Regions from separate parts of the Homo sapiens genome. Here region 2 is linked to region 1. A link means that fine-mapping ties the variant in region 1 to the expression of a gene that starts in the linked region. Tissue or cell type: testis. Region 1 holds a variant in brackets; the other region holds the start of a gene. All regions are shown on one strand. Distances are between the middles of the regions.

Region 1 (11,133 bases):
CTTTATTTCTGGGTTCTCTATTATGTTTCATTGGTCTGTGTATCTACTTTTTTCCAATACTGTGGTGTCTTGGCTACTTTAGCCTTGTAATAATTTTTGAAGTGATGTAATGGAATACTTCCAGCTTTGTTCTTTTTGCTAAGGATTGCTTTGGCTATTTGGAGTCTGGTTCCATATGAATTTTAGGATCGTTTTTTCTAATTCTATGAAGAATGACATTGTTATTTTGATAGAGATTGCATTGAATCTGTAGATTGCTTTGGGCAATATGGTCATTTTAATGATATTGATTCTTCCCATCCATGAGCATGGGATATTTTGCCATTTGTTTGTGTTTTTTCAATTTCTTTCACCCAAGTTTTGTAGTTTGCCTTGTATAGATCTTTCCCCTTTTGTTTAATGTATTCCAAGGCTTTGGGGTTTTTTTGTTTGTTTGTTTTTGTAGCTATTTTAAATGGGATTGCCTGCTTGATTTCTTTGTTGACTAGATCATTAGTGGTGTACAGAAATGCTACAAATTTTTGTACATTGCTTTTGTATTCTACAACTTTACTGAATTCATTTATCAAATCTAAGAGATATTTTGGTGGAATCTTCAGGCTTTCCTAAATATGAGGTCATATCATCAGCAAAAATGGACAATTTGACCTCTCCTTTTCCAATTTGGATGCATTTTATTTCTTTCTGATTGCTCTGGCTAAGACTTCCAGGGCTATACTGAATAAAAGTAGTGAAAGTGAGCATCCTTGACTTGTTCCAGTTCTGACAGGAAAGGATTTCAACTTTTCCCCATTTAGTATGCTGTTAGTTGTGTGTTTGTCATATATGGCCTTTGTTATATTGAGGTGTGTTCTGTCTATGTTTAGTTTGTTTTTAATCCTAAAGGGATATTGAATTATATAAAATGTTTTTTGTGTGTCAGTTGAAATCGTTTTTTCTTTCATTCTATTGACATGATGTATCAGCTTAATTGATTTGTGTATCTTGAATCATCCTTGCAGTCCTGCTATAAATCCTACTTGATCATGGTGTATCATCTTCTTGATTTGCTGTTGGATTCAGTTTGCTTGTATTTTATGGAGGATTTTTACATCTATGTTCATTAGGGATATTGGCAAGTAGTTTTCTTTTTTTGTTGTGTCATCTGATATTGGTTATCAGGGTGATGCTGGCCTCATTAAATGAGTTGGGAAAAATTTGGTTAGGAGAAGGAAGAAGATACTAGTTATTTGTGAGGTTATGTGGTAACTGCAAGTGGGTTGATTTTAGGATAAAAATTTGTAGCTAAATGGTAGGTTGTTTCAAAAATTGGCATTATCTAGATATTAAACAATAATATGCTAAAAGGATTTTCTATACACAAAAGCAGATAACTATAATATCAGAGATATTATAGAACTGAGAATGATAAAACTACTTTTTCTAAAGTATATATGAAAATCAGATTTAAAAAGGCTACTACAGTGCAAGGTGTCCATTTAACTTGAGTAAATTAGCTATGCTAGATATTCATGGCTGATCTGTATCATATGCTAGGAGGACTTGACTTTGTTAGCTATTGTCCTTGAAAAACTGAGCCATTGCTGTAAACTGGATTACAAACTTGAGTCCCTGGAATTAATCTTTGCTTTTCACTGGTTCTCTCTCCAGTGTAGCTTCTGTTGGGAATCAAGCGGGAGTAAGATGAACACTTTGTGTAGTAGTTTCCACCTTTTTTATTACAGCTCAGACTTTAAATCTACATTTTACTCTCATCAATAGAATCATTCTTACCACCTCACCTCAGTCCCCGGATGCCCCTGGGATGATAAACCAATGACAGTTACAATTGACCTTTTGTTTTCTTTTCATTTTCTGCCTTCTTTCAATTGTGTAATTGTAAAATACATGTGTTCAACATAAACCTAGCCAAATCAAATTGGTGATCTTTGCCCTGAAAATTCATTGTAATTTTACTATTGTCACCTTATATTGTTTGACTATGATTCTAGGTTTTACCTTTGTGTCTGGTAATTAGTAAATGTTGGTATTCTCAAAGTGAATCTTATCATGTTCTTCTGCCTTGTGGTGTTCATTATAATGCACCAGAGATATTCTAAAATAAAAGCCTGGATTTGGGATTTAGGCAATTACTCAATAACTCCTCCTGCCCTTTTGCAGTCTCTTGGTAGTCACTCAAAGGACACAGCTATTGCACGATTGCACGATTTCTGTGATGCCAGACTTGTCTGACTAAACCTCTACTTTATGCAGACTGAATATTTTTATAGCCCTTCATTAAAGTCCTTGGGTTGTAAGTGCTGAGAATCAGCCTCTCTGATGATTTTCCCAAACACCAGTGGCATGAAATCCCATGAACGAATCCTTTGCTGAATGATGGCTTTTTTTTTTTTTTTTTTCGGTGTTTCACTCTCGTTGCCCAGGCTGGAGTGTAATGGAGCAATCTTGGCTCACTGCAACCTCCACCTCCCAGGTTGAAGCGATTGTCCTGCCTCAGCCTCCCAAGTAGGTGGGATTACAGGCACCCACCACCACGCCCAGCTAATTTTTGTATTTTTAGTAGAAACAGAGTTTCACCGTGTTGGCCAGGCTGGTCTCAAACTCCTGACCTCAGTGATCCACCCGCCTCAGCCTCCCGAAATGCTGGGATTACAGGTGTGAGCCACCACTCCTGGTCACATTCATCTTTTCACTAGTAACCAGAAAGACTTGGATTATTTGAGAAGTTGGTTGGCTGAACAGACGTCTGTGTGGCAGGAGGGAAGCCATAGGTGCTCTGTTGGTTTAGAGAGCCTTACTGCACTCAATCCCAGAATACAAGAAGAGTCAACTGTTAGCAGTTTTGCGGTCTATTTTACCTTTTCTCATAATATTCTCTCAAGGGAAAATAAGACTCACAACCACTCAATAACATTAAGGAACAAGAATAAATATGGACTCCAAAAATGTTAGGGCAAAACTCTACATGGGGCCAGAAGCTCCTTGGAACAGATAACTTTGAGGCTGTATTGTAAATACACAGTGAGTATAATTTATCTTTTCAGAGCATCTCACATCCTTGGTAGGCATATGCAATGGTCATTGGAACTACTCCCACATATACAGATTCTCCTGCGTATGGGCACATGTTAGAATTTTATTTCACTATTCCCTTTTAAGTTAGGTATGGCTACATGATTTATTTTTCTATGAAATGTGAGTAGAAATGAACTGTCTCGTTTCCAGATGGAGGCTTTAAAAGTCAGACTGGGATTTGTTCAGAGAAGGGAATGAGTTAGCCTGAATTATTGAGTGTTCATGAGGGACAGAATCCCCTACCAACCTGTATTGGACGTAGAGTCGTCGTGAGGAAAAAAACAAACAAACAAAACAAACAAACAAAAACACATTTGGCATTGCTTGTTATATGAAAATTACATAACTCATTGCTATGGGCTGAATATTTGTGTGTCTCCCAAAATTCATGCATTGAAGCTCGCATCCCCAGTGTGATGGCATTTAGAGAGGGGGCCTTTGTGGGGTAACCAGGTGATGAGGGTGGAGGCTCATGGTAGTATCTGTGTGCCCCTACAAGAAAACAGAGAGCTTGTCTCCTTTCTCTCTTGCTATCTCCACTGCCTGTCTTTGCTCTCACTCTCGCTTTTGTCCTCTCTCTGCCATGTGAGTGAGTATACGGTAAGAAGATGGTCATCTTTAAATCAGGCGAAGGGTCCTCACTAGATGCCAAATCTGCTGGCACCTGGGTCTTGGAGTTTTCAGCCTCCAGAACTTTAAGACACACATTTCAGTTATTTAAGCCACCCAGCCTATGATCTTCTTGTTACAGCAGCCTGAACTAAGACATTAATCTGGACTGTTACCATTTATTTGTTTTTATAGCTCTTTTAAATTGCATGAAGTAATGCATGCTATGTAGGGATAATCAAATATGTTTTTATAATACATTTAATAGATGTCTATTCAGCAATTTCTTTTGGAGATGGATTGGAGCTTGGATTTTGCCTCCACCAATGGCTAACTTCAGAAACTTGGGCAAATTATTTAAATTTTGTGAGCCTTATGTTTCTTCAATTGCAAATGATGGCAATACCACTTACCTCATAGGTTTGTCCTGAAAATGAAATGATTAATTGTATGTAAGTCACCCAGTAAAATTCCAAAGGCAAAATAAATACTGAAAATATATTCATTCTTACTAGTCTGTCTTTTAAATACTGACTAGTGACGTATCATGTTAAATAAATGCTCTTGCTCTCAAGTATCTTGTAGTAGAGTATTTAGACACACAATTAACCATAAATAAAATACAAAGTGAAACTCACTATTAAGGATCCACAAATGAAGTACTTGAAATCTCAGAAAAAGTCATATCTATAGAAAAATTCTATAGAAATTTTGAGCTCTAGGCACACACGCAGAAAGCCAAGGAAAATAGTAAATATCTAGCAAAACTCACATAGTGGCTTATGTAAGTCATTTCCTAAAAAATTCCCAAGGTATTTTTTTAACTTGTTTTATCAAAATCCATTTAGAGATCGACAGCTTTTCTTGCAACATTGGTGAAAGCTCTTTCAGAACTCTGTTACTGTAGAAGCTTGCCATGTGAAAAATTCATTAGCAGCAAGTTTGAAATCTTAAAAGCCAGTGTGTGTTTTAGAGGAGTAGCTAGCCCATCAGTAAAAAGAGTAGAGTAAAAGGTTCACATCAAAAGAGAAATCTTCACAGCACCGATGTTATCAACTCTCTCCAGATGTGCAGTTTTCTATGTTGCACTCACTTTTTCATGTGTCATTAGCAACCTTATATCTTAACATGGAATGCTTGAATGGAGTCCTTAT[T/C]AATGAAGTCGCCAAGCCCAATCTATTCATCAAATATGGTCTTGGGGTTAGAACATTCTGGAATATGCAGGGAAGAATGCCCAGAATTGTGGACCTCCCATACTGCCAATTTACCAGGAGAGTTTTGCCAGGAAGTGGGGCACAGGTACAATTGGAAACAAGCTGTGAATACATTTTTCAAGAGACAGGCATAGGTTTTCAACACCAGTAAAAGGTTTCTGAACAAAAGCAAAAATCAATGTAAGTTAAGTTTTAATGGGAAATAAAAAAAATAATTACTTATAAAAGTAGGAAAAGAAGAAACCCTTCAAGATAGAACAACATGGGATATCCTATCTATGCACAAAGCAAAACAAAACCAAAAAGGTATTTATTTTGCATTTTTATATTATGCTCTGTGAGCAACAGGTGTATAAGAACATATATGTGGGATGAAGGAAATTGGTAGCTTAGCTGCCTGTGGGCTCCTCTGAATTTTTAAACTATAAAATCACCTCCAGCTTTTGAATTGGGTGGATATGCAGTTAGCTAGGTTTTGCAGCAGTCTCTTTGAATTAGAAAGATCATTACCATCAGTAGCTTGGTCAGGACTGTATGTGGTGGGGCCAAAGCTAACCAATAGTACAAAGAGACTTTGAATACATGTTCTATGCCAGGCATTATGTAGCTCTCTCTTGCTAGAAAAGCAAGATGTGGATTTTAAGGGAAAATTATTTTGAACTCACTTGTTATTTTTAGATGCATTCATAGACAAAGAGAGAATTACTGTGTACTATTGTCACCAAACGTTAAAGAGAAATATGAGGTTTAATAAGGCAACAAGAATCACCTGATACTTTTCCTCTTGTACCTTGTGTCTCAGAAACACCTTTCATCACAGGAATGATGGAGTATCTAAGGAAGATGTACTTAGGAAGAACAAATGTAAGATAATATGATTTCTTGCCTCATATTTAATTTCCATGGCCCTTTGGGGATAATGTGTTTTCAAGGCCAAGCCTCCTTTTCAGGCAACCAGATAATAAGAAGTGCTACATTTTCATATGCTAACTTGGGAAAATTATTCATTTTTAAAATTTAATTGCTTTAATTCTTGAAGTTCATGGCTGTAATTTTCAGATGATGTGAATCACTCAGTGGAGGTTTTGTTTGTTATTTGTTTGAAATTAGATTCTTTTTCCATTCGCCATAATTAATTCATTCACATTTGGTGCTCTTTGCATTTTTATGTTCTTTATGCTTTATTTGGGAAGTTAATTTGGAGAGAAATTAACTCCAACTAGACTTCAGTGGCTGTTGTAATTTTTTTAGTCAGATCTGCCCAGAACATCACTTAAAAATGACCATTTCATAGGTTTGTTTCAAGCATCAGTATATTGTGGGTGTTAACCTATCTTGGCATGTACTACAGCAAGAGCTCTTAATAACTCCAGTGAGGGAATACAAATCTTTCTTTGGGTAGAGTGACAAGGAGTGCCATGAAAATGCCTTCATATTAGATAAGGTTCACATTTAAAAAGCACATAAGTCAGCAATTTTAGTCTATTCAATGCTTAAAATCAGTGGCTATTTTTCCTTTTCAGCAAATCTCTCTTCTAATTTTAGTTATAGTAAAATTCAGGGAAGAAATTGCTTATTAATATTATTATTATTATTTTTAGGGGTATATGTAGTAAAACTGTAAGATGATACTTACATCCAGGTAGTAGCTTCTTGGAGTTTTGAATGTCAAATTTATTCATTTATCAAACAGTTTTTCAGTTTTGTTTGGGATACAAAGTTGATTCTTTTAAAGGAGCCTCAGAGCACAGGAGCTCACAGAATCCTGAATTTTATGTCTATCGAAGAGAAAATGGTGGTTAAATGCTACTTCCTCTCTGAAAACTTATCTAGACAGAGTTTTGATCATTATCTATGTCCTGTTTTGGAGACTTCCCGGCTTCCTTAATTATTTTCTTTATGTGGATACATTCAAATGTAAACCTATAAGTGTGCCTCTTTTTCTGAGCACAGATGGGCCTTAATCTAGTTCCGTCAACTCTTCTTGCTTCTCCACTTTTCCAATCTGTTAGTCACACCTCTATCAGACACCTGGAGGCAAACCCTACTACCGTCTTTGACACCTCTCTCATCCTTAGCTTCACTTCTTGAAAACAGAGCCTTTGACATCCTAATTCATATTCTGATATTTAAAATATGTATAAATTGAACATTTCATTAGGGAAATCAAAGTTCCTTAACTGTTATCTTAGTAAACATCAAGTTTTCTCATAGTGAGCTACAAAATAATGCCAGCAGAGGGAAGATAACACTTGCTTTGGGACTCTCTTGGGCCAGTAGTTAAGCCTCTGTGAGCCTTTGTTTTCTTCTCTGCAAATGGTAAATGCAATAGGGCCTTTCTCAAAGAATTACTGTAATTCTTAAATATGATTAAGATTTAAAAGCACTTTGTTTCCCAAGTAGCAATATAAATTGTGTTTATTATGCAGGACTGTGTTGATAGTTAACAAAGTGTAAGACATCAGTATAAAAGAACAGGATTTCTAGGCTAAACCAGGGATTAGCAAACTAAGGTCAGTAGGCCGTACCTAGTTTGCACACAGTATTAGTAAATAAGGTTTTATTGGAACATAGCCACACTAATTCATTTATGTATTGTGTATGGCTGCTGTCATTTCAGCTACACAGGCAGAGTTGAGTAGTTGTAATAGAGATCTTATGTACCGCAAAGACTGAAATAGTTAAAAATATTAAAAGCCTAAAGTATTTTTCTAAAATTTAAAGCTTAAACTATCTGGCCTTTTGCAGAAAAGTTTGCTTACTTCTGCCTAAGGCACCTACCAAAACTGGTGTAACTTTTCTGTATTCTTCTACATTCAAACTGACCATCCTCCAATTTATAGAATAGGTTTTAGAATTTTATCTCATTTAACATTTATTAGTTTAATGAACTTTAAACAAATTATAGAAGATGTTACATATGCAAACATGCACATCTGTGTGTTTCTGTTACACACACATACACACACATTCTTCCGTAAAAGTGGGGCAATTTCCACACATTAGCAATGTACAAAAAGCTTAAACTACATTTTCCTAGTACAAGGCCAAGATAGAAACACTAAACAAAATCTGATCTTCAACCTGAAAATCACTTTCTGCATAATAATGTCTGAGTTGATGAAGGGAAAAAATAAAAGGGATACACTTTAATTTGCACTTGAGTAGATTATTTTTTTCTGATGTGATTATGACAGTTAAAATAAAACACTCACCAAAGCACATCTTAGCATCACAGTCAATGTTTGAGTTTGATTGCATTCCAGTCTGCTGGGTTCTGGGAGGCGGATGACACTCCCCTCTTAGAGAAACAGGTAACCATTCAATAGAGCCTAAATAGATGAGGCTCTTTCATGCCTGGCTCAGACTGTAATTAAAAGAAAAATCTAAAAGTTATATTTCTAAGTTACTCTATATTCTTTGACTCTGTATTCTTTGTGAAACAGAAAATGTGAAAATTCAACGTCTTTAAAAGAATGCTTTGCTATGGTTTTTTATAAAAACTGAAACGAATTTTGTCATCAGCTAAGAATTGTATTAAATTGAATTTTGTAATGAAACAGTGTAACTATTCTCTGCAAGACTTATTTGACATCTTAATTTTCTTGCCTATTCTAACATAGAAAGTGTCAGCTGTTCATTCATCATAGATTTTACTAAACTTCAGCATATAAACTTGTGATGAATGATTAAGACACATTAGGCCAACTGGGTTGGCTCTAGTTTTCATTTTCAAGAACCTTAAAAAGCTTTGATTTGCAGCTGTTAGAAGCAAGTTAAAATATTATCAGAATACCACCAACTTGGAAAGTGCAGCTGATATATTACTGGTGACTGTGCGAAATTATAGCATTGTCCAATCCAGGTACCAGATGGTCCATCTTCCTTGATTTGAGGAGCATTGGTTGACTACAAATTTTACTTGCTGCCCTAGGCTTGTTATTGACCATTAGCATGTGAGTTACAGATTCCTTAAATTCTTTGCCAGGTGACAAATTGACCTATTAACAAGTCACTTTCTCAAAAAAATGCATTAATGTTTTTCAATCAAAGGACCAGTTGCAAATGAGCAACATTTTAATAAGTATTAGTTTTGCTTTAAAGGAATCAGTAAGTATCCTCACAAGCCAAGTTGCTGAAATAGACTTTAAAAAAAAAAAACACTTGAAGATTTTTAAGAGTGTTGGAAAATTTTGAAACAAGTCTTTTAAAAATATAATTAACATGTAAAGATTCTCTGTGTTTTAATTCTTTAATAGCATGTTCTTTTGGTGATTTTCTGTGAATAGCATTTATGGAGTATAGATAAAGTAGAAAACATAATAAATTTGGACTGTTTTTCATAGTAGATAACTTACATGGACAAACTATACAGGCATGGAGATGACATAATAAACTTATAGACAAACTATAGACAAACTATACTATAGACAAACTATATATACTTATAGACAAACTATACAGGCATGGAGATGACATGATATTGGAGTTCAGAAACCCACCTTTTTACTTCTGTCTCGGAACTGATGAGGTGAGCCAAAGAGTTTCATCTATAGAGTGTGGAGGTCACGTTAAGTAATCTCTACATTATCTTTTACATTTAAAATATAAGAACTTTAGTAATCTAATTGTGATTATCAATGGAAATGTACACGTATATGTTAGATTTTGTATTTAAGAAGTAATTTCATTAGTACTTGAAATTTAAGGGAATATAAGGAAATCTTTTAGTGGAATACTGCTGTCTCTGAAAACCATCACCTATAAAGCATCTAGTTGAACAGATTTTAGGAATCTGTTGAGATAATTTATTCTAGAGTCTTAAACTGGAATAATATTGCATTTTCTTTCTAAGAGAGATACAGAAGTCTAAGAATTAACTCCAGGGGAAGATTTATTTTCTTTTCTTTTCTTTTTTTTTAGGGTGAAAGTGGTATATGTACTAAATGAAATTATCTTGATGCGATAGACCAGTATACTTGGTAAAGCTACTTGATATACTAATTTCATCACTTAAATGTGACAGCCACTGGGATTTCCAGCAGTGCTACTATTCTGGACCTATTAATGCTTCAGAACTTACTTGTCTTATGTTGGCAGGTGCTTGTGAACGCTGGTGCAGGCTGATTAGCCATTGCTTTTACAGTTATCACTTTTACTTTGAACTGTCTACAATGCCTGCCTTATTTCTGAAGGAGGGTGCCCCATGGGCTTCCATGGCTCTTCATACAGCATGACTGCTCTTGAAAAATGCTAACAGGTTGTGACAAATACTAAGATAATATACTGTAACATACTTATATGAGGTGATTGGTGGCAAGGCATCATTTCTTGTGCTAACATTAAGTTCTCCAGTGGTATTGGGCTCATTCCCCAGCTATGTGTTTAAAATAATGACATAGTTGAGGGTGTATTTTCAGGTAGCTTTTAATGATGGGAAAACTCCAAAATTTGGGAAGAAGACAATAAGTGCAGTTTATTTTATCATATGCTAGGTTTTAGGTATAGACTTTCTTTTTCCTTTTCTAATTTGTTAATCTTTTCTAGATACACATAGAAAGACTAGGTTTTATTTAAGTCACCTTTATCCTTAGCTTTCCTTTTAAAATAAGTATCAATTACTTTCTATTGTGCTGTTTCATTTTATCTTAAATTTATATTTTAGATAAAAGTGTGACAGACTTTGAAACAAGTCAAAATGATTGCTGGGTATCTTTGGTGGAAAACTAAGCAGTTTCTAGGCACACCCTCTGGGTTATCTGATTATATGGGGTCTCTGCGCCTGTCATTATCTTTGAGCTATTTTACAACTCTGTTGGTTAGAGATAATTGATAGCAATGCAAATGATTCTTGTCTGTAGACATGCAAATTAATTTTGTCCCATAGAAGCACAACTGATTTTTAGCTTCCAATCTCACCCCATTCCGATTCCTGGAATAATCCAGTTTTGTGTTCATGTATAATTCATTTCATCATTAAGTTTTGCTAACATTTTTGTGGTTTTTTGAATTCACCATTGAACTAGTTGTAACTTCTTACTTATTTTCCCATTAATTAGCTAAATAACATCCCTGACAAATGTTTATCTTACATATGTATGGACTATGATTATATCCTCTGTTAAATATTATCCTTTAACAATATTCCCTTTATGGCAGAAATGTTGGAGATGTGTTTTATTATATACTTATGCTCCGGTCATGCTAGATGAATCCTGAGAATCTGGCTTCCAAA
Region 2 (11,133 bases), 290 kb before region 1:
GTAGTATTTTAGGTAACGATGAGTAAATCTTAAGATTATATGGAATATTTTTATTGTCTAAGTTTCTGACATATATGAAGACTAAACATAATTAAATAATTAGAGTCCTTTCAATTCTCTTGGATAAACCCTGTCATAACTTTTAGGAGAAAATCTGATTAAGTAGATCACATGATTCCCTTCCTTGAAGCCAAACAGTTCTGGCTTCAGAGTCTTAGAAGAATATTGCAAGACAAGAAGAATCTGCTGCCCCATGGTGTTTGGTTTTCCCCCCAAGAGATCATTAGTAACCCAGTTTGTTCTCAGCTGCCCTAAAGATATAATTTTAATTGGTTTATATTAGCACTAGGTATATGTTTAAGGCTCAATAAATGTTAAATGAACTATTAGTATTTCATTGGATATAAACCATAAGATGGAAATGAAAGATTTTCACCATTTCTGGTCATTATTCACCCAGGTTTACCTTTTCTTTCTCTGTAACTCAGCAACCTTCCCATTATCCAGGCACCTGGCAGAGCTACTGTTGTTAAATTTCTGACAGCTTTTTCATTACAGGCCCTGTTTTTCAAGAGGCAGGTTAACTAAGCGATTTTGATTTGTGCCAAGCTGAGATGTGGAATAGACACTTGAAGTCCATTCTCCTGTTTTCCTAAGATTTTATTTGAAGTTATTTGTCCTACTTTGATCTAAAAAATACTAAGAAAAAACTAAAATTCACCTATTATTTTCATTCATGATTTTTATAACTGAGCAAAAGGATGATAAATTCTGCTGTAGCTCTGCTTTTTATTTTTTTTATAAACCCAAGGCTTTTAAAAAATTAACACAAGACATTTCATACTTCAGAGTTATTATTTGATTCAGAAACATATTAACAGCCAATTGTTTTACTTACATGAGATAGGGTAAGACCTTTTTATTTTGTAAAACATGAACCAAATGCTATAATTTGTATTTATGTTAAACGTGTGACATATTCATGTCAAAACAATATTTTTTGTCTCATAACCAAGGACTCATCTTTACTGTAGAAAACATGAAAAATGCAGATAAGAGAAAAAAAATTTAAAATCAACCAACCCAGTAAGATCATATTGGATTTCATTCTCTTTTTATGTCCACTCATTCTTCCCTGAAGTTTTAGAAACTTCTGGAAAGCATTCCTGACTACCTCTCTGCCCCTTCCACATACAGTTACCACATTCTAATCAGTTTTACCTGGTATTTCCATATTCTTTCCACCTACTTCACACACGATTCCATGTGGTTTAGCATCCACCCAGTTTACTATACTAAAATGTTTCTCTCAAAATTTCCAGTAAGCTTCCTTATCATTGTCCAAGTACCATTATCTCCATCTCTTTCTTGTCCACTGCAATTTGTTTTATGTTTGAAAATCTCCTCACCTGGGTTCCACGATGCTACCTAATGTTTTTGTTCTCTTCTTACCTTTGCAACTATTCACTGTCTCTTGCCTTTAAATTTTCTTATTATTCATTGAGTTTGGTGTATAGGTTAAGTTGCTTTTACTTGTAAACAGTAGAATAACCAACTAACAATGGTGTAAACAACAGGATATTTATTGATTATTTAACAAGAAGTCCAGAAGTTGGAAGTCCTAAGGCTGGTTTGGTGACTCAAATAGGAACTCAAGGTTCTTTGCATCCCTCCATTGTCATTGTCTGTCTTCTAGCAATGTCTTGTCTCTTACGCAAAAGATGGCTGTGTAGCTCTAAGAAGGCAGGAGGCTGAGGCAAAATGGCCCTTCTGCTCCTTTAATCAGGGAAAACACTTTTTTTTTTTTTTTTTTTTTCAGAAATCTCCATAAATCACATTGGCTAGAAATGGGTCTTACACCCACCCCTACACCAGGGAAAAGTGCTAATTGTGATTCATCCCTTGGTGGTGAGCACAATGCCCCCTGACATAATCAGTCTTAGAGAAGCAAAAAAGAAAGGGCGATGGCTGTGGGATATGTGACTGACAGGGGCTGCACGACTCGTCTGTCACCTATGGCTGCTCTTCAAGACTGTGTCTATTTTTCTCTACAACTGAAAGTCTCTGAGGTTCCATTCATGTGATGCCCAAAACGGGTTGTTGTGAAAACCAGCTGGGATGTGAAAGTACTGTATAAACAGGAGTTGTATTGTCTTTTATTAAACGTACCATATTTTCCTAATGAGATGCAATCTTTTTTTTGTCTTGTTTTTGTTGTTGTTTGTTTTGTTTTTTTTGAGACAGAGTCTCACTCTTTCTCCCAGGCTGGAGTGCAGTGGCGTGATCTCTGCTCACTGTTACCTCCACCTCCAGAGTTCAAAGGATTCTCCTGCTTTAGCCTCCCAAGTAGCTGGGACTGCAGGCACATACCATCACACCAGCGAATTTTTTGTATTTTTAGTAGAGAAGGGGTTTCGCCATGTTGGCTAGCCTGGTCTCTAACTCCGAAGCTCAGGCAAGCCACTCTCCTTAGCGTCCCAAAGTGGTAGGATTACAGGCGTGAGCCACCACACCCAGCAGAGACACAATCTTAAAATAAATATTTAGTAATTCTTCTTGTGTATTGAACCAAGCACCAACTCCTGCCAATCCTTTCCTCAGAATCTATCTACATCTTTCCATTTTCCATCGTCCTATTCTAGGTATCCGTTTACCTCATGCTATTTGTTTGCTTTTTTTTTTTTTTTTTTTTTGAGACGGAGTCTCCCTCTGTCACCCAGGCTGGGGTGCAGTGGCGGGATCTCGGCTCACTGCAAGCTCCGCCTCCCGGGTTCTCGCCATTCTCCTGCCTCAGCCTCCTGAGTAGCTGGGACTGCAGTGCCGGCCACCACACCCGTCTAATTTTTTGTATTTTTAGTAGAGACGGGGTTTCACCGTGTTAGCCAGGATAGTCTCGATCTCCTGACCTCGTGATCTGCCCGCCTCGGCCTCCCAAAGTGCTGGGATTACAGGCGTGAGCCACCGCGCCCGGCCTTTTTTTTTTTTTTGAGACGGAGTTTCTTTCTTGTTGCCCAGTCTGGAGTGCAATGGCACGATCTCGCCTCACCGCAACCTCTGCCTCCCAGGTTCAAGTGATTCTCCTGCCTCAACCTCCCGAGGAGCTGAGATTACAGGCACGTGCCAGCACGCCCAGCTAATTTTGTATCTTCAGTAGAGACGGGGTTTCTCCATGTTGGTCAAGCTCGTCTCAAACTCCCGACCTCAGGTGATCTGCCTGCCTCGGCCTTCCAAAGTGCTGGGATTATAGGCATGAGCCACCGTGCCTGGCCTCGTTTGCTTCCTCTTGTATGGCATTTATCCATATTCTTTTTTCCTACTACACACAAGATGAATACTACAGCTAGGATTCCAGCCATTAGCTGACCTTTTTGTCTAAACCAGATGCCTGCTCCTCCATATGACCTCTCTCCTGTCTGGTCAGGCCTCTTCCAGGAACTTCCATAACATTCCATTCTCATTCCAATCCCTTGTCTAGGCTCCTGCTGTGGCTCTCAGTGTTAACTGGAATGTTTGACTTTGTCTCTTACACCACTGCAAACAGTGTGACATTACTCAACAAATGGACCAGGCAGGGTTAAGGTCACCAGTAAAGCAAGTTATCTAATTCTTTGGTCTGACTTGAGTTCACAAACCTACCCTAAACTATTTGACTCTCCTGATGGAATTAAACTAATCTATTTAGTCATTCGTCTCATGTAATATCTTTGCCACAAATCCTAAGATCATTTTATAAGTATAGGGACGGTGTGCAATAGTCTAGTGCTATAAAGTTGTATTGAGTGCTCATTCAATACTTAACAATTAGCTGATCTTCAAATAATTTAAAACCACATATACTATGCTTTTACCCATTCTTCCTTTACCTCCATTTAAAATAATGAATTATCTGCTATACTGAGTCAGGGTAAATTACAATGAGTCCCAGGATAAGGTGGTAGGACAGGAAGTGTGTGTTTTTACCCTCTTCCTCTGGAGTGCATAATGCTTTACTATGATACAAAGAGAAGTTTGAAGGAAGTCACGTTGTCAAATATGACAGAAGTAATAACTTGACTGCAATTCCTGAGCCTATCAACCTCACCGTTTGTCCACAAACATAACCAGAATATATTTTATCTTGATTTCCGACTTGAGGGAAAATAAGTTCAGTGATTTAAGATCTGCCAGTTAGCATAAATATTGTGAAAGCAAAAAACTGTGCTAAAATTTTAAGAGAAAAAAAGTTAAGTGTGTTGCGTTTTCAGAAAGATTTAGCTATGGAGTTTTTTTTTTTGTTTTGTTTTGTTTTTTTTTTTTTTGGTTTTGTTTTGTCTTGACCTATGAGTTTGAAGAAGACAAAGTGGCTCTGTAAATAAGTCGACTTCATTTTTAAAGCGTTTGGAAAGGTTAAATGAGGTTGAATCTTGAGAGTCTTTTTGGTGGTTAGGAGAGGGGGAATTTATTAAAGAGAGGAAGACAATGTACCTAATATGTTGTGATGATAATGACAAACTCAAAGATTTAAACTTCATGAGTCATTCTGGTCATTCATATCATCATCAGGAAAACATCTTCATGTGTAGCTTCATAGGTGAGCTCCACAAAACTGTGCATTACCTTGTAGTAGTTTGTGAATAATGTGCTGACCTATGACACATAGCCACGTAAGTGAATAAACACTATTATTATTATTATTTTGTCTTGGTTTTCATTAAACTATCTTAGTAGTTTCAGGAGCTCTGGGTTTCAACACACACTTCTGCCAGCTGACTTTAGTGCGTCCATTAGCATAACAAAGTCAATTAGGCAAACCTGAATTTTCACTTTTATCCCGTTCACAGAACATCAGTGTAAATGGAGACAGGAAGAAGAAATTGGATTGATTCTCCACTTGAGAATTATGTTAACTTGGAAGAAAATGTTAAGTCTACTATGTGAGGGCATCTAGTGAGAGGGAAGGAATCACCTCCCTTCCCCCATTATGTCCCTTTATGCACCTCTGACCCTTGTGCTCTCCTTTTCTTGTTGCTTCTGTGGTCTGGTTGTTAGCTTTCCCGATCCTCCACACATTAGAAACCTAAGCATAATGATTTCTGATCGAAGGCTATGAGATATTTGAAATAAAAAAAGGGGAAATTGTTGAGTCTAGAACCAAACCTTTAAAAATTAAGAACTACCAGTCTGTAATGTGTGCCTTTAGAAAAAAACAAAGTCAAACAGAAATTAGGCAACTAGTTAGAGCCGTGATTGTGCTCTGCCACCCATGAACTCCCGTCTATGACTATTTCCACTCTGGCTTTGTGTTTCAGTAGGTCAGGGACACATATTAAGAGCAACAATTGGAACTGCGTTATCCTTTACCTCCATAAAAATACAGCTTAATAACATGTTAATGACTTAAAATTACCTTGTCTTTCTAGATTGTTTATTGATGTCATTTCAGATCGGTATAAAGGATGTGAAGTGAATAAGAAAATAGGTACGTTTCTTTTTCTTTTTTTCCCCTTTCTACCGACTAGGAAGAGATCCAGTCCAGGTTTTGCCTTTGACTCGGCCTGTGAATTTCGGCTGTGCAATGTGTAGCACGTTTCTTTCTCCCCCCTCCTTTCTCCTTCCCTCTTGCCTCCAGTGACTGTCTCCAGGATTTCTCTCTTCCTATTTCAGGAGGACTCTCACAGGCTCCCACAGCCTGTGTTAAGCTGAGGTTTCCCCTAGATCTCGTATATCCCCAACACATACCTCCACGCACACACATCCCCAAGAACCTCGAGCTCACACCAACAGACACACGCGCGCATACACACTCGCTCTCGCTTGTCCATCTCCCTCCCGGGGGAGCCGGCGCGCGCTCCCACCTTTGCCGCACACTCCGGCGAGCCGAGCCCGCAGCGCTCCAGGATTCTGCGGCTCGGAACTCGGATTGCAGCTCTGAACCCCCATGGTGGTTTTTTAAACACTTCTTTTCCTTCTCTTCCTCGTTTTGATTGCACCGTTTCCATCTGGGGGCTAGAGGAGCAAGGCAGCAGCCTTCCCAGCCAGCCCTTGTTGGCTTGCCATCGTCCATCTGGCTTATAAAAGTTTGCTGAGCGCAGTCCAGAGGGCTGCGCTGCTCGTCCCCTCGGCTGGCAGAAGGGGGTGACGCTGGGCAGCGGCGAGGAGCGCGCCGCTGCCTCTGGCGGGCTTTCGGCTTGAGGGGCAAGGTGAAGAGCGCACCGGCCGTGGGGTTTACCGAGCTGGATTTGTATGTTGCACCATGCCTTCTTGGATCGGGGCTGTGATTCTTCCCCTCTTGGGGCTGCTGCTCTCCCTCCCCGCCGGGGCGGATGTGAAGGCTCGGAGCTGCGGAGAGGTCCGCCAGGCGTACGGTGCCAAGGGATTCAGCCTGGCGGACATCCCCTACCAGGAGATCGCAGGTAAGCGCGGGCGCGCTGCAGGGGCAGGCTGCAGCCCTCGGCTGCCGCACGTCCCACTGGCCGCCCGGCGTCCCCTTCCTTCCCCCTGTTGCTGAGTTGGTGCTCACTTTCTGCCACCGCTATGGGACTCCGCGTCTCCGTGTTGGGCGGCGGATGCTCCTGCGGCTTCTTCGGCGGGGGAAGGTGTGCGTCTCCGCCGCCTCATTGTGTGCACACGCGGGAGCACCCTGGCTCCCGCCTCCCGCTGCTCTCGCGCCCTTCTACCCCTTAGTTGATGGCTCAGGCCCGGCTGGCCAGGGAGCCCGGGTCACTCCGGGGCGGCTGCAAGGCGCAGACGGAGAGCCGAGCCGGGCGCTCACTCCGCGTTCTGGTTCGGGCAAACTTGGAAGAACTGCGACCGCAGTTTGCCCAGCGCCACAGTCTGAGTGGCGCCTTCTCCACTCCCGCCCTTGCGCCGGCAGGGGCGGTGGAGAGACGCGGAGGGCTCCCCCAGCCCCTCTCTCCCCTATCCGTCCTTCGGGCGACAGAGCGCCCGGCGCTCGGGCCGGGGGCGGGCAAGGCTGGGAGGGACCCTCGCCGGGGACCTGGCCTCTGGACGCCGGCGTTTCAAGGCTGGTTTGGGGACTTCACGGGCTGCCTGTTTCAGATGTGGGGCGGGCTTTCCCGTTAGGGTTCCTCAGTGCTTCCCCAGTTGCTGTTGGCCACTCAGGGCCCGGGGACACCCTGCCACCCGGTCTGGAGCCGGCCTCGTCTGCCAGCGAACAGCCAACTTTAGCGGGTGGCTCAGCTGGGGATTCGGGTCCGGGTTCGGGGGCCCCGTGTCCCCCGCATGCCCGGCCACTGGCATTGCTCCACCAAGAGCTTGAGAGCGCCCACCCTTTCTCTCGGCGCCAGTGTGTGTAGCACTTGGTCTCCGACAACTTGCGCGGCAGTCTGGGTGCTTGTTTTCCGGCTCTTAGCTCCAACCGAATCCGAGCTTCTCTGGGGCTCTGTGAATGAAACGTGTCGGGGAGAGATAATCCTTTGGCTGCTAAAGAACAGAACTGAGAGAGGCCGAGGGAGGCCAGGAGATGCTGCGAGGGCGCGGGCTGCTCAAACCGGGCAGCTGAAGTCCTTAGTGACCTCAGATCGTCAAGTCAAAACGCTGAATTTCCACCAGCCTCTGTCTGCTTTTTGCCAAATAACTGGTGGATGGATGAAAAGCATTTTGCAGATATCTTAGAACATCACAGTTTCGATACGTTGAGGAATTACTATTTTCTTATGATTTTCAAGCTGTAGAAGTGAGGGTTTTTACTTACACTGAAATGAACACATTTAAATAAATTTGAGCATTGGCAAAGGGGGAAAAAAAGAGGCGCAAATTACCACGCTCATTATATAGAAGGAGCTTTTTCAGTTCAGAGCCAGACATTCCCTTTGCTGAGTCTAAGTTAGAATCTGTGGTGAATTATAAGCCTACTTTTCTATCCTTGTTACTTCTTCCTTCTTTTCCAGAACTCCTTAATTTGTTAATCAATGAATAGAGAGCGACTGTCCCCACAGCTCCTTAAGTTTCTTAACTCTCCTTCTCCTTTGTCTACTGTTATTTCATTCTTTTTAATTAATTGATAAGGATCAGCTTCGCTTTTTTTTTTCCCTCCCCAAATCTCAGGGAATTCAACTTTTTAAAAGGTTTATAGTATGGATCACTTCTTCTAGGAACTTTTTCTCCTTTAATCTGGGCTTTTTCAAACGGTATCTTTTAAGCACACAAGATATTTCCCAACATGATTTCAGATAAGATGTCTCAAAGAAGAAAATAGTTAGGTATTTTTAAATTGCTTCGGTATTCTTTAGAGGATAATGGGACTCTCAGGAGACTAGAGTTCATCCTCAGCATCAGGCACATCTCTTTAATATCAAAGTGAAGATTTTCAGTGTAAAACAATTTCTGTAGTCACCATGAATGTTTGTTGAGAACATTCCCAGGGGTTCATGTAAATTCTTCGGTGGATATTTAACTAAAGAGGTTTTTGTTTTTGTTTTTGGTTTCCTCCCCACCTTTTTACAATTACAGTGTTTGCTTATTAGCTATGAATTTCTAAAATGTGTGCACTTTTTTTTTTTTAAACTCACCTACTTTCCATGAGTAAGGGCATACTGTTAACTTTGCTTTAAGCCTTGTGTCCTTTGATGCTGGTAGACATAATCAAGATGCAGGTCACCACAGGGTCAGAGGCACATTTAATAGGAAAATAATGAATTGAAAGATAATTGTGTTTTTTAAGGATATACTTGTTTTTTCAAAATCAACTTTACTTAATGCTACCTATTGCTGTTTTAATAATCACTTAGGAAATATACCCTGTTGTTACAGGAACACACTCTATCTCTCCTCCCTAGTTCTTGATACTGTTTACATTTAATTATCTAGTGTAAGTGGTTATCTTTTCTTAAACTCTTTTTTATCCTTTGCCTTGATTGGGCATCTAATGGTTTGCTTGAAGAATTTCATGTGTCTTCAATCTGCCAGGGCACATAAATTTAAAAGAATTGCTGTTCAGACTTCAGATTCATGACAGCTGTTTCTAATTGAAAGCTATTTGCAGGTAGCTTGCTTAGTGAAATAACTTGAGAAGTAATAAGGACATTATGTTTCATCATGACATTATCAAAGTTTTACTCAGAACTCACAATTGTGAAATAGTGTTGCCCTTTTCTATTCTAGGATAGAATGGAAACCCAACAGATGAGGAAGTATCACAGGTAATATATAAAGTTATGCTTTCAGAGAATGCTTGGGAAGGAGGAGGCCTTCAAGGGGCAGTTTGCACCATCAGTTTTCACTCAGCACTGATTTTAAACCATGGCAAGGAGATCAGATAGACTATTTATCCTTGTTTGAAAAACTTCCAAAGGAGTAGACTCTTGATCCCCTTTCAGCAATCCATTCTAATATTTAGCAATTCTTGTGGTATAGAAATGTTTCCAGATATCTAGCCAAAAGCCTTCACAATATGCTTGCTTATTTTTTCTTGTTCTATCCTCTGGGAAGATACTGAGCAGTGAATCATCAGGTTCTTTGTTAGGAGAGTTACTCTCATCAAAGGTCAGTGTGAAACATTCTAGTCTTTCCTCATTCATCAGAATTATGACCTAAGTTTCCAATCCTCCTCATGTTGGTGGCTCTAAACTTCTAAAGGAACTCTACCACTGAAAATAGCACCTGCTTAAAACTCTGGGAAATTCAGAGAATGTTGTTTCAGGCTTACTCTGCCACTGTTTTATGCCTTGAGTCTTGCTAGGATCATTAATTATAACACTTTGTAGTTAACAGTGACTTATTGGCCTACATGATCATGTTTTCATTACTTATGTAATGTGACATTATTTAACAATCTCTTATATAGAATTTACTATGTGCCCATCACCTACTTAAAAATTATTACCTTTATAATATCACCTTACTGAATTCTTCCAATAACTTAGTAGATACTACACATTAACCCCATTTTATAGATAAAAAGGCTGTGTGACAGGAACTTTAATAAACTTACCTAAGGGTGACTCTACTAGTAAGTAATGAGGCTGCAGTTCAAACCCAGGCACTCTGACTCCAGGGTCTATATACCTAACTTGGCTCACTGCCTTACAGTATTAAACATTCACCATTTATTTTGAATGAATGCATGCAAAATCTATTCTTTCCTCATTTCATATATATATATATACGTATATATATATATACATATATATATATACGTATATATATATATATATACATATATATATATATATGTATATATATATATATATATATATATACGTATATATATATATATAGTCTGGTATTATTAATCACTATATACATATATGTATCCCTTCCAGTTTTGCATGCTAAATACGTTTCTATTTTGTTCCAACGTCTCTAATTCTCAATATCACTTTGACTTTGGATTTTGTATTCTCAGGAATTGGCCATGCTACCACCATTAAATGGTTCATGCGTTTATGCCTTTTTCTGAACGTTTTCTGGCAAGATATAGTTACATAAAACACAGAAACTAAAGTACATGTCTTGGTTTCTTTCAGTATACTAGGCCTATTGAAATATTGGGTTAGTCCAACAAAGCTCATGCTGGAAAGTTATTCATGGGGCTAGAGGGAGTAAGAACATTTATCTCCACAGATTAGAAAAAAAAATGTAACTAGCTCTGTTTTCAGTATTTATTTTGCAACTTTTTCTGTCCCAGGTATTTTGAGAGTTGGGTTACAGCTGGATATTAAAAAAGCACTAAAGTCTTCATCTATTTGATATTAATTTATCAAGTATTTATCTAAAAATCTACAGTTTAAAAAGATTATTTGCTTGTTTCAAAATACATAATGTTTCCTTTTCACTGATCTTTGCCCAGTGGGCGTTTCCTTTCTCTGGAAACCTGTCTTTCTGTCTGCTCCCCCGGCAAACCAACTAATTTAATACATTTACAATTTACACAACTTTTTTTTTTTTTTCCAGTTTCCATGGAGATATCACATTAACTTAAATGGAAAACAGTGTTTGGTAACTCTTACTCTTTAAAGCCACAGTAAATATCGTAGTTTGAGATAAATTGTTTAATTTCTGTTTATCTGCCTGGTTCAAAGATTTCTTATTTCTTTGCCCCCTGTTTAGTTAGCTGATTTCTTTAAAAGTTTTTGGAAGGACAGTGTAAGTCACAAATGAGTGAGGTGAACTTCAATTTTTGTTTTTGTAATG

Evidence for each region. PIP is the estimated chance that this variant, and not a neighbour inherited with it, causes the effect.
Region 2: GPC6 starts here. The variant in region 1 is fine-mapped to the expression of GPC6 in testis (GTEx, PIP above 0.99).

The regions. Positions count from the first base shown.
Region 1 is chr13:93,511,496-93,522,628 of GRCh38, forward strand. The region is part of intron 1 of GPC6 (glypican 6); the gene reads left to right. Among named protein-coding and RNA genes, the nearest start is that of GPC6, 290 kb to the left of the region's middle. The variant T/C (reference allele first, on the strand shown) is at 4,839.
Region 2 is chr13:93,221,225-93,232,357 of GRCh38, forward strand. It overlaps GPC6 (glypican 6), which reads left to right and starts at 5,583. Exons shown (of 9, transcript NM_005708.5): 1 at 5,583-6,392. The coding sequence starts at 6,233. RefSeq lists silencers at 2,667-2,852, 7,072-7,366 and enhancers at 2,819-3,769, 6,176-7,018.